Regions from separate parts of the Homo sapiens genome. Here region 2 is linked to region 1. The links come from fine-mapping of genetic effects on gene expression. A gene starts in region 1. The other region holds a variant in brackets. All regions are shown on one strand. Distances are from middle to middle. Region 1 holds the start of FBXL16 (F-box and leucine rich repeat protein 16). Region 2 holds the start of JMJD8 (jumonji domain containing 8).

Region 1 (5,354 bases):
GACACATTCCGTGGCAGCCCCGTGACGCAGGCACACCCGCGTCCCTGCCACTTGGCACGTGGCACAGCGGCAGAGCTCCTCTCCCGCCCCCAGTTTGAGATGCTTCTGGGGGTGCACCAGGGGCTCTGAGGAGGGGCACCATGGCGCAGCAGGCACGTGGCCTCAAGAGAAACCCGTGTTGCTGCCCCAGCAGACTGAGGGCCCATGGTCAAGCCCAGGGCAGCTCAGCCTTGAAAGCTGGACACCCTGGGGAGTGGGTGCTGGGATCCAGGCCTCATCTCAGCCCCTGCTCGGAAGAGCATGAGCACCCTCAGAGGCGAGGCCTGGGCCCCTAGTGCCTACTGCTCCAGGCAGCTGCCACTAACCATCACCCCTCTTTCCTGCCCAGTGAAGGAATGAGGCCTGAACCCACACATTGCAGCCAGTTTGGCCGTTGACTCCTCCTGCACCACTGGTGGGGAAGGCTCAGTCACCTGCTCACCCACAGAGCTCCCTTCACTGCCAATCCAGTCATGGGAGGCACAGCAGTGGGTGCCCACATGCAAGGAGATGGGGTCTTCGGGTGGCTGAACAGTGCCACCTGGGTGGGAGATCCCTAACTCTCAGCAACACAAGGCTTCCTGGGTCCATGTCCAGCTGGTTCAAGGGCCCCGTGCCTCCCACACAGGAAGCTGTTTGTGTCCTTCTCATCAGTGGGAGGTAGGACTCGTCCAGCCGCCCCGGAAGTGGGTGTGAGCTGGAGGCAGTGAGTCTGTCGATGGAGGGGCTGAACTCAAGGGTCTGGCCCCAGATGAGGGGCAGTTGGGGTGGCAGGGGGCAGGGAGTGGGGCAAGTGAGTCCTAGGGTTCCCCCACACAGCGATGTTTGCAGCTGGGCCTTGAATTTCCCTCCCCTCCAGGCGGCTCCAGGTCCAGCCCTGTGTCCACCTCTGGCCAGACCAGCCAGGTTCCACTAGGCCTCTGCCCTGGTCCGGGAGACAGAAAACCCTTCAGTCTCCTGGCCTGACCCAGGCCTATCTGCTCCAAGGCTGCTGTCCAGCACCCCACAGAGGGGGTGGGCTGGGAGACGGCCCTGTGTCCAGGGAGGCCTGAGCTGCCCCTGGCCATTGGGCCCTCGGATGCACGGGTGTGGGGGAAGGGCCTGAAGGAAGAGGCAGGTGAGGTGGCCTCCGCCATCTGCTCCTCCTGCGGAGGGCAGGCTGCCCGAACAGAGCCTGGAGCCTGGGAAGGGCCTGGAGTGGCCGCTGGGCCGTCAGTTCCTGAAGCTGCCACCGCAGCCCTCTCTCCTGAGGTGATGGGTGGGGAACGCTCTCCACCCACCTAATCCCCAGGAGGACACCGGACCCCTCCCGAGCAGGTCTGAAGGTGCCGTTTCCCTTCTGAGGCCCTCCAACCTTGGCCAAGGCCCGGTCCCGCCTCCAGAACCAGGAAGGTGCCAGCCTCCCCCCACCCTCCTCCTCCCGCGGGCAGTAGCTCAGCGCAGGCCCCGGGTCCAGAAGCCGCCCGCCCGGGGAGGGCCGCCCCTCAGGCCGCACATCCACGCGACCCCCATGCAGTTTAACGGTCTCTGGCCTGTCACTTCGGTCCGGGGGCGCCCTCTGAGCCGACCAGGCGCCCGGGGTGGAGGCCGGGGGCCTACAATTCCTCCTTTCGGCGTCCCAGGAGGCACGGACCCCCAGCCCCGGCCGAGTGGCCAGTGGGGAGCGGCCCTCTTCCGGGCCAGGGGCCGGGGCGCGGGGCTGCGGGAAGGCCAGGCAGGGACCGAGGCCCAGCGGCCGCGGGGGAGGTGGGGAAGGGGCTGCCGTTACGTAAGCCCTTCCCGGGCGGCGGCGGCGCGGCCCCCACCCCCACCCCGCCCCCTCCTCATTGTGGCCGCCGCGGAGGTGCGGCCTGGCCCCCTCCCGGCCCCGCAGCCCGGCCGCACGCGCACCTTACCTCGGCCCGGGCTCCTGGCTCATGCCACGCTGTCCGCCGGGCGACCTCCCGTCATGGGGAGCCCGGCATGGGCGTCGGCGCGCGGGGGCCGCCGGGGTGCTGGACTGGCCGGCAGGGCCCGGCCGCGCCCTGCGCCCCGCGTCCCGTCCTGGCCGGGCCCCCTCGGCAGCGCACGGAAAGGAGCTCCCCGGTGGGAGAGGATCGGCCGCCCCAAGCCTCCCACCGGGGAGGCTGAGGCTGTGCCCAGATAAATAAGGCCGCTTTGCAGGGAACCAGGCGGGCGCCTCCTCCTCCCCTCGCCCTCCCCGCGCTCCTCCGTGGCCGCCGCCGGCGCCGCGCGCGCCCCCCGCCCGGCACCAAACGCCGCGCCCTCGCGCGCTCCCGGCGTGGCGAGCCAATCCGGGTTCGCGAGCCCGGGCGGGGGCGCCGAGAATGCCGAGCCCCGCCCCCGCCCCGCCCCGGCCCCCGCGCGCGGCGCGCTCCCGGCACGGCGTCCACGAGCACGCGCCAGGCCCGGCACGCGCCCCCGCCCCGCTCGCCGCGGGCACCCGCACAATAACAAACCCCGGCGCGCGGCGGGCGGGGAGGGCGCGGGAGGCAGAAGGGAGGGCGAGGGGAGGCGGGAGAGCAGGCGCCGGCGGGTGGCCCAGGGGTCCGGGGTCCTATGGGGACCGGGGCGGCACCGCGCGTCCCGGCCCTTGGCCACCACTTGGGGAGGCGAGGAAGGCGAGACCCGGCCCAGAGGAGACAGGGTGGTCAGACCCCCGTCTCTGGACCCTCCCGCCCAGCCCACGGCAAGGACCCTTCACAGCCCTCACACCCCCCGCGCACCTGCTGCGTGCCCGGCCGGAAGCCCCTCATTGGAGACCCTGGCACACCCGCAGAGCGCGAAAACAAGTGACTGCACGGATCAGTTCAGACAGTGACAGTGAAAGCACCCGAGGGCTTGCGGTGGTGACTTCTGGCGGGGGCTTCCTGAGGGTGCCCCACTGGAGCTGAGACCCCCCCACGGCGCGAGGGAGGGATGGCTCGGGAATGGGGGTGCAAAGATCCGAGGAGCCTGGCAAGTTCCCTCGGGAATAAACTGGAGGCTGGAGGCGGCGGCGGCTGCTGCAGCCCGGGGCAGGGGTGGGGCGTGCTAGGTTAGGTGGAGGACTCGGTGGGGACCGCTGGAGACCCCAGACGCCCCAGCAGGCTCAGGGCAGGAGAATGGAGGCCAATGGCGCCCTATCCTGGGGTCTCCTGGGAGCAGGGCCGGGGGAGGGAGCAGGTGTGGGGAGAGCAGAGGGGTTCTTTGCACCGGGAAAGAGCTACAGGGCTGAATGGGGCTCCTGAGAGTATCTCAATAGGAGTGAAACCAGCTGCTGTTCCCAGCGTCCTGATGGGAAGCCTGGCCGAAGGGGCCGGTGTGAGGCCTGGGGTCAGCGGGAAGGAGGGTCAGACTGACGGCACCCTGGCTGGGTCCCGGGGTGGGGTGGTTCTGTGCTTGCTGTGGGGGCGCCACTGGGTCTACCTGGGGTGAGCGCAGCAGCTCTTCTGCGTAAGTCTTGCCCGGTACCTGGATACTGACCAAAGAAGGTGCCCGGAGTGGGGCAGACAGGACGAGCCCCGTGAAGACAGTTGGGGCAACAGGGGAGCGGCGGTCCAACCTATCTGGGTGTCTCCGGTGCATGGTCTGGCAGGCTGGCCCTCTGGCAGCAGCTTCCACCCCAGGCGTGGACTGCTCCCGGTAGGAGGGTTTCACCTCGTGCCTGGGGCTCTCACCACAGCAGGTGCCAGGGCCTCAGGCAGAGAACAAGCTGTGCTTGTGTTGAGTCCCAGCTGGGGCTGGAGCCGGACACACCCCAAGCGCACAGGGCAGGCTGGACACACCCCAAGTGCATAGGGTGGGCTGGACACACCCCAAGTGCATAGGGTGAGCGTGGGAGTCAGGCATTTGGGTCATGCAACCCTGGCGAGGCCCAAGAAGCTAGCCCTGCCTGTGGGGAATCTGAGCAGGGAAGAGTGTGTGGAAGATCATCACAGAAAGGCCAACCGTGCTCCTCCAAAGCGGTGACCCACCTGCCCTCCACCTCTGTGACCAGCTGTGACCCACCTACCCCCCACCTCTGTCACCAGCTGTGACCCACCTACCCTCCACCTCTGTCACCAGCTGTGACCCACCTACCCTCCACCTCTGTCACCAGCTGTGACCCACCTACCCTCCACCTCTGTCACCAGCTGTGACCCACCTACCCTCCACCTCTGTCACCAGCTGTGACCCACCTACCCTCCACCTCTGTCACCAGCTGTGACCCACCTACCCTCCACCTCTGTGACCCCACCTGTGCCGGGCAACTTTGTCTGTCTCCACCATGGCTGGTGGCAGCTACTTCCCCATTGGTCTCTCCACCCCTCTCCCATCTCCTTTTCTCCCCAGGGTGCAGCGGGGCCATTTTGCCGTGCAGACATGGTCCTGTTCTTCCCAGGGCCCTGTTCATTCTTTGCTGAAGACTGCACAGCCCTGAGTGCCTGGCACGGCTGGCCCACAGCCTCGCTCTATACCTGGCCCCTTGAGGATGAAGCTTCAGCCACACTGGCCTTCTTCTGGGGCCAGGAGAGTGCCCCATCCCTAACCTGGTGTGCCCCTCCCTTCACCTGGAGCACCCTTCACCTGGGGCACCCCTCACCTGGAGCACCCCTCCCTTCACCTGGAGCTCCCCTGCAGCACCCCTCCCCTGGAGCACCCCTTCCTGGAGCATTTCCTCATGTGGAGCACCCCTCCCTTAGAGCACCTCTCGCCTGGAGCACTCCTCTCCTGGCCCCTTGCCTGGAGCACTCCCTTGCCACCTGTACCTGGGTGACTACTTGCCTTTCAGACCTTGGCTAATGTATTCTCCCCTAGGTGCCCTCCCTCAGGAGGACAGGGCCACAGACCCGTGTCCTCACCTCCCCAGCACCAAGGACCTTCTTTTCTCAGCCTGTGTCTGCCTGGTGTCTGATGGTGCATTTGATGAGCTATTGGCTGACTGTGCCTGCTGAGGGCCAGGGTGCGGTCTTCTTCCCCACCACCCTGTCCCTGGGCACTGAGCCTCCATCTCAGTACGTCACAGGTGCATGGCAAATTTGGCGAATGAGGGAGACAGCGATGCGTCAGCAGCATGAAAGGTGACTGGCACCAGCAGTTTGGATCGCCTCCTGTGGCGGGAGGCCCTTGTAGAGGATACCTTTGGAGAACAGCTCACACCCCAGAGGGAAGTGGCTTGGACAAAGGGGGCTGCTCAGCAGACTTCGATCTCCTCTGGGGGATGTGGATACCGCTCAGGCCCGCACCCCTCCATTGGTCCTGGAGACTGATATGGGAGGCGGTATGTGCCTTGGCTCCGGAGGGCACCTGGAGCACCCCTCACCTGGAGAACCCTCATCCAGAGCACTCCTTTC
Region 2 (5,354 bases), 22 kb before region 1:
GGCCCGGCCTTGGTCCCTAGACCCGGAACCCGCTGGTGGCCGTGTATTACACCAACCGGGCCTTGTGCTACCTGAAGATGCAGCAGCACGAGCAGGCCCTGGCCGACTGCCGGCGCGCCCTGGAGCTGGACGGGCAGTCTGTGAAGGCGCACTTCTTCCTGGGGCAGTGCCAGCTGGAGATGGAGAGCTATGATGAGGCCATCGCCAATCTGCAGCGAGGTTGGCTGACAAGCTGCCCGGTTGTGGGGCCTCTGGGGCCAGGCGGGTGGACTGGCCAGAGAGTGACGTGAAGCCCCCGTTCCCCAGCTTACAGCCTGGCCAAGGAGCAGCGGCTGAACTTCGGGGACGACATCCCCAGCGCTCTTCGAATCGCGAAGAAGAAGCGCTGGAACAGCATTGAGGAGCGGCGCATCCACCAGGAGAGCGAGCTGCACTCCTACCTCTCCAGGCTCATTGCCGCGGAGCGTGAGAGGTGGGACCCTCACCCCAGGCCGCCCTGTCTTGGGATAATTCTGAATCACCGACTCCCGACACAAGCGTTTATCGAAGGCTTTACTGGCAAGCAGGAAATGTGGGGAAGTGTGGATGTTAGCTCTGAGATTGGGGTGTGGTCAGACATCTGGCCAGGTCCATCTCTGACCGGCTCCTGGTCAACCCCCAGGGAGCTGGAAGAGTGCCAGCGAAACCACGAGGGTGATGAGGACGACAGCCACGTCCGGGCCCAGCAGGCCTGCATTGAGGCCAAGCACGTGAGGGTGCCCCCCACCCACATGTGGGTCTGTGTGTGTGCACGTGGCGTGGGAGCATCCCCGCCTTGTGTTGGGTCTGTGCCCCATGGAGGAGGGAGGTGGGGTGTCTCCCCCAAGCACAGCACTCAACTCTTCACAGGACAAGTACATGGCGGACATGGACGAGCTTTTTTCTCAGGTGGATGAGAAGAGGAAGGTGAGTGTGTGTCGCTTGCTGCCGATGGCTGGCAGGTGCTCGTGCAGTGCCCCTTTTCAGCCTCTGACCGTGTGCCCCTGTGCCACAGAAGCGAGACATCCCCGACTACCTGTGTGGCAAGATCAGCTTTGAGCTGATGCGGGAGCCGTGCATCACGCCCAGTGGCATCACCTACGACCGCAAGGACATCGAGGAGCACCTGCAGGTGAGGCCTGCGGCTGGGGGAGCAGGGCCAGTGGCATGGTCCTGGGCCCCATGACTGCCCTCTGCCCTTCTTGTCACTGCAGCGTGTGGGTCATTTTGACCCCGTGACCCGGAGCCCCCTGACCCAGGAACAGCTCATCCCCAACTTGGCTATGAAGGAGGTTATTGACGCATTCATCTCTGAGAATGGCTGGGTGGAGGACTACTGAGGTTCCCTGCCCTACCTGGCGTCCTGGTCCAGGGGAGCCCTGGGCAGAAGCCCCCGGCCCCTATACATAGTTTATGTTCCTGGCCACCCCGACCGCTTCCCCCAAGTTCTGCTGTTGGACTCTGGACTGTTTCCCCTCTCAGCATCGCTTTTGCTGGGCCGTGATCGTCCCCCTTTGTGGGCTGGAAAAGCAGGTGAGGGTGGGCTGGGCTGAGGCCATTGCCGCCACTATCTGTGTAATAAAATCCGTGAGCACGAGGTGGGACGTGCTGGTGTGTGACCGGCAGTCCTGCCAGCTGTTTTGGCTAGCCGAGGAAGGTGGAGATGAAGACGCTGGTGTCAAGGTTGAGCGTAGCATGCCACCAGCGGTCGGGGAAGTACAGCACCTGGTGGAGGAAGGGGGTGCAGCAGAGATTAGCTGCGGGCCTCTAGCCTGGCCTGGCCCTCTCCTGCCAGCCACTGACCTCACCAGCCCGGATGGTACACTCCAGGGGCCGTGCAGACGGTGGCAGGGCTGGGTATGTGTCCCGGAGCCAGGCCAGCGTGGTCTTGTTGGGGTGGAACTCTGGCGTCTTCTCAGGTGGGTAAAGGAACCAGCGCTGGGGGCATGAGCAGCAGTGTCACCCTTGCCCGTTTTGGTCAGCGAGTCCCAAGCCTCAACCCCCACCCCGTGCTGACCTTACGACCGTAGATCACTTCTGAGTACCCGGGTCCATGCCAGTGGAAGGGCACCCCCGAGCCAGCTCCTGTGGGGTTATGAGCACCTGGTGACCAACCCATTTTGTACTCACCGACAGAAGCCTCAGTCCTTCCCAGTCCCAAGAAGCACCCACCTGCGATTCCAAAGCTGTAAGCTGGAGCGGTTCCCAGCAGGCCAAATGGGGGTGGGGAGTAGTGCCGAAAGAGAGAGGCCCACTCGGTGAAGTTGTTGTCCCCGAAGAAGTACAGGGTGTCTGCCAACAGAGACGGCGGGGACAGGGATCCTGGCACCTGGAGACTCCAAGCGTCCCCACCCCCTACCGCCGC[C/G]TAGGGCTGCCTCACCATTGCCCAGGGAGGTGGGGTCCTGGGGGTGCAGCAGCTGCTCCACATACTCCTGGAAGGGCAAGTCCACTGCAGGAAAGAGACGGGTCAGGACCGTCTGGTCCAGCCGCCCCGGTGTTGGCAAATGGGCGGGCCCCAGGGGTGAGGCCGCGTACCTTTGTGGTAGGAGTAGGTGTTGGCGGTGCTCAGCCGGACCACTCTGTCCCCAAACGAAGCCAGCAACCTGTCGCGGGAGCACAGGGCCCGGAACCTCTGCGGGGGCGGGGAGGGGACTTAGTGGCCGGGCCCAGCACGGGCGAGAGTGGCCGGGGACGGACGGGCACGCGCTCACCGAGTTGTCCGTGAGTCCCTGCAGGATGACGGGCCTGACGAAGGCGTACCTGGAAAGAAGGGCAGAGTCGCGGCCAGGCCGGACCGCCAGCCTCGCCGCCCCAGCCCCACGCGTGCGCGCGAGGTCAGGGGAAGGCGGCCTTGGGCGGTCGGGGCAGACGGGCCGGTGAACAGGACGCGACCTCCGCGATCAGGGGCGCACGTACTGCTGCACGAACTCCGCGTAGGTGAGGTCGGCCCGACGCTCCACCGTGCAGCGCTCCTCCTCCGCCACGGCCCCCGGCCCGCCCGGGCGCCTGCGGGCACAGCTGGGTCAGCCCGCGCCCCGCCCGCCGCACGTGACCCCACCGCCCGGCCCCTCCCGGGCCGCTCACCACCCGCCGTCGCCCTCCGCCCCGGAGCCGGGTAGAGCCACAGCCGCCAGCGCCCAGAGCGCGAGCAACCGCGACGCCGGCGCCATGAGCCTGCCGCCCTCAGGCAGCCGCGCTGCACGCCGGGAACCTTGGGCCCATCCGCCAGCCATTGGCCGGCAGCTTCGTCGTCGTGGCAACGGCCGGGAACCGGGACGGACCCCGGAAGTGACCTCCTTTGGCCCGCCCCGGAAGAGGCCTCTACGGGAGGCACTGGGAAGGCCGCCCCGAGAGCGACTATGGGCGCCGCCGGTTACCATGGCGACAACCCCGCCGAAAGCCCCCGCCCGCCAGCTGCCCCGCGGGCCTACGGCGAGCCCGCCGCGCTATGGGGTGACACGCAGTGCCGACAGCGGCTCTACTTCCTTTATTGAGGTCTCAAGTTCCAGCCTCCGCCCGTCTCGGGCACAAGACCAGGCGGGGTTCTGCACGCGGCCGCCCGGGCAAGCCCAGCAGATGCCCCGTCAGGAGTACTCGCAGAGGTGGCCGCAGCCTGCGGGACAGTGGGAGCTGCCTTCCAGCCACTTCATGATGTGCTGCAGGTGGCCGCCGTGGCTGCAGCCCTGGCACCACACGAAGAGACCCTTGACTACGTGGTGGCAGACGGCACACATGCTGGCGCAGCGGTGGCACCTGGGGGCGGGCGGGAGGGAGGGTGCCTCAGCGGGGGCTGCTGCGCTGCCTGCAGGCCCCTGCCCCACCTCCCGACCCCACTGCCCCACCTGTCGCAGACCCAGCCCCGGCTGCTCATGGGCCGCTTGCAGTGGCTGCAGTTGACGTGCAGGGTGGTGGAGGCCTGGTTGAGGCAGCTGACGGCGCGGCTGGTGCTCAGCTTGACCACCTCGTTGGACACGTTCCAGAGGCGGAAGCGCTGCAGCAGGTCGATGTAGGAAGTGTACCAGTGCTCCTGGGGGAGGGAGCGCCCGGCAGTCAGGATCTGGGTGCCAGGGGCGGCGCTGCAGGGGGGAGGCCCCGCCCACCACACACCTGGGTCTGCTCGTCGATGTCCTTGCGCACCCGTTCACCCAGGACGATGAGCACAGACACAGCCATCTGCACGTCGCCCTGCTCAGCGTAGAAGTGCAGCATGTCGCGCACCAGCACGCCGAAGAAGTCGGGCGGCAGGCGGCTGTCGTAGAGCGCGTGTGAGACAGACAGGAGCGAGAAGGAGGAGTCCACGGGGGCCAGGGAGGCCACATCCGCCTCGCTGCCGCTCACGTGCGGGGAGTCGGCCTTGTCCTGCAGGTGCTCGGGCCCGGGAGGCGTGTCCACGATCTCGTGGCGCAGCGGAAAGGCCTCCTGCGGCAGCACGCACTCAGGGTCCTCGGCTGGAAGGCAGGGACCAGCGGAGGCTCTGAGTCTGTCCTCCATCCGCCTCTGAACCCCACCCTGCCCGGACCCCCACTCACGGTGCGCGTGTTCCGGATCCAGCAGGTACAGCTCGTCCTCCTCACCTTCCACGTCACCCAGCAGGTAGTCGGCAGGTACGTCGCTGCCCTCGGTTTCCTCGTTATCTGCCCGACAATGGGGCGGGCATTCAGGGTCGTCTGGGACACCCCCACCCCTCTCCCATCAGCACCCCTACCCACCCCAGCCTACCCTCATTGGTGATGAGTGTGGCCGAGGAGTCGAGCAGAACTGTGTCGCTCCGTGCATCTCCTTTGCTGCGGTCCAGCCGCGTCTCACTGCCCAACCCTGGGGCCATATCCTTCAGGTTGAAACTGGGGGCAGGAAGGGCCCATGGGTGGGTGGGCTCGAGCAGCCCCAGCCCCTGGGGAGAGCTGCCCCCGGCATCTACCTGTTCATGAGCGGGAGGCCACAGGAGCCACCCTTGCCCACACTGTGGTTGAGGTTTGCAGTGGGCACTAGGCCAGGGCTGCAGTAGATGATCCGCAGCATGGTCCACGTTTGCGCCACCTAGGGGCGGGCACTGGTCACTTGTGGGCGTCCTGGACACCCAGCACCCCATGCAGGTCCCTCTCTGCCTGGACAGTCACAAGCCCTCAGCATTCAGCTGCCCTCAGTACCCAATGTCCAGGCCCACCCCAGGTAGGAAAGCTGAGGCTCATGGGAAAGACAAAAACCCCGGTCCCCGCCCTACAGCAGCACAGAGGAAAACAGAATTGGGCAGTGGGGACTTGCGGGGCAGCTAGAGATGGGCATGGGAACGGCAGCTCACGGCTCCACCGCTGCTGGTGCCTGGAGAGCTCCAGAAG

What was found.
Region 2: its variant is fine-mapped to the expression of FBXL16 in blood mononuclear cells (TOPMed, PIP above 0.99).

Annotation. Positions count from the first base shown.
Region 1 is chr16:703,578-708,931 of GRCh38, forward strand. It overlaps FBXL16 (F-box and leucine rich repeat protein 16), which reads right to left and starts at 2,224. Exons shown (of 6, transcript NM_153350.4): 1 at 1,935-2,224. RefSeq lists enhancers at 2,813-3,429, 3,430-4,045 and a silencer at 3,308-3,524.
Region 2 is chr16:681,132-686,485 of GRCh38, forward strand. STUB1 (STIP1 homology and U-box containing protein 1) reads left to right here. Exons shown (of 7, transcript NM_005861.4): 2 at 21-219; 3 at 307-472; 4 at 662-749; 5 at 889-945; 6 at 1,034-1,150; 7 at 1,233-1,670. The coding sequence ends at 1,358. It overlaps JMJD8 (jumonji domain containing 8), which reads right to left and starts at 3,203. Exons shown (of 9, transcript NM_001005920.4): 1 at 3,103-3,203; 2 at 2,935-3,024; 3 at 2,730-2,778; 4 at 2,554-2,650; 5 at 2,399-2,467; 6 at 2,191-2,310; 7 at 2,036-2,103; 8 at 1,822-1,956; 9 at 539-1,743. The coding sequence starts at 3,188. The coding sequence ends at 1,663. WDR24 (WD repeat domain 24) reads right to left here. Exons shown (of 9, transcript NM_032259.4): 4 at 4,937-5,055; 5 at 4,738-4,859; 6 at 4,548-4,652; 7 at 4,126-4,466; 8 at 3,861-4,045; 9 at 3,491-3,771. The coding sequence ends at 3,603. RefSeq lists enhancers at 38-87, 58-645, 646-1,233, 3,583-3,632 and a silencer at 2,873-3,182. The variant C/G (reference allele first, on the strand shown) is at 2,384.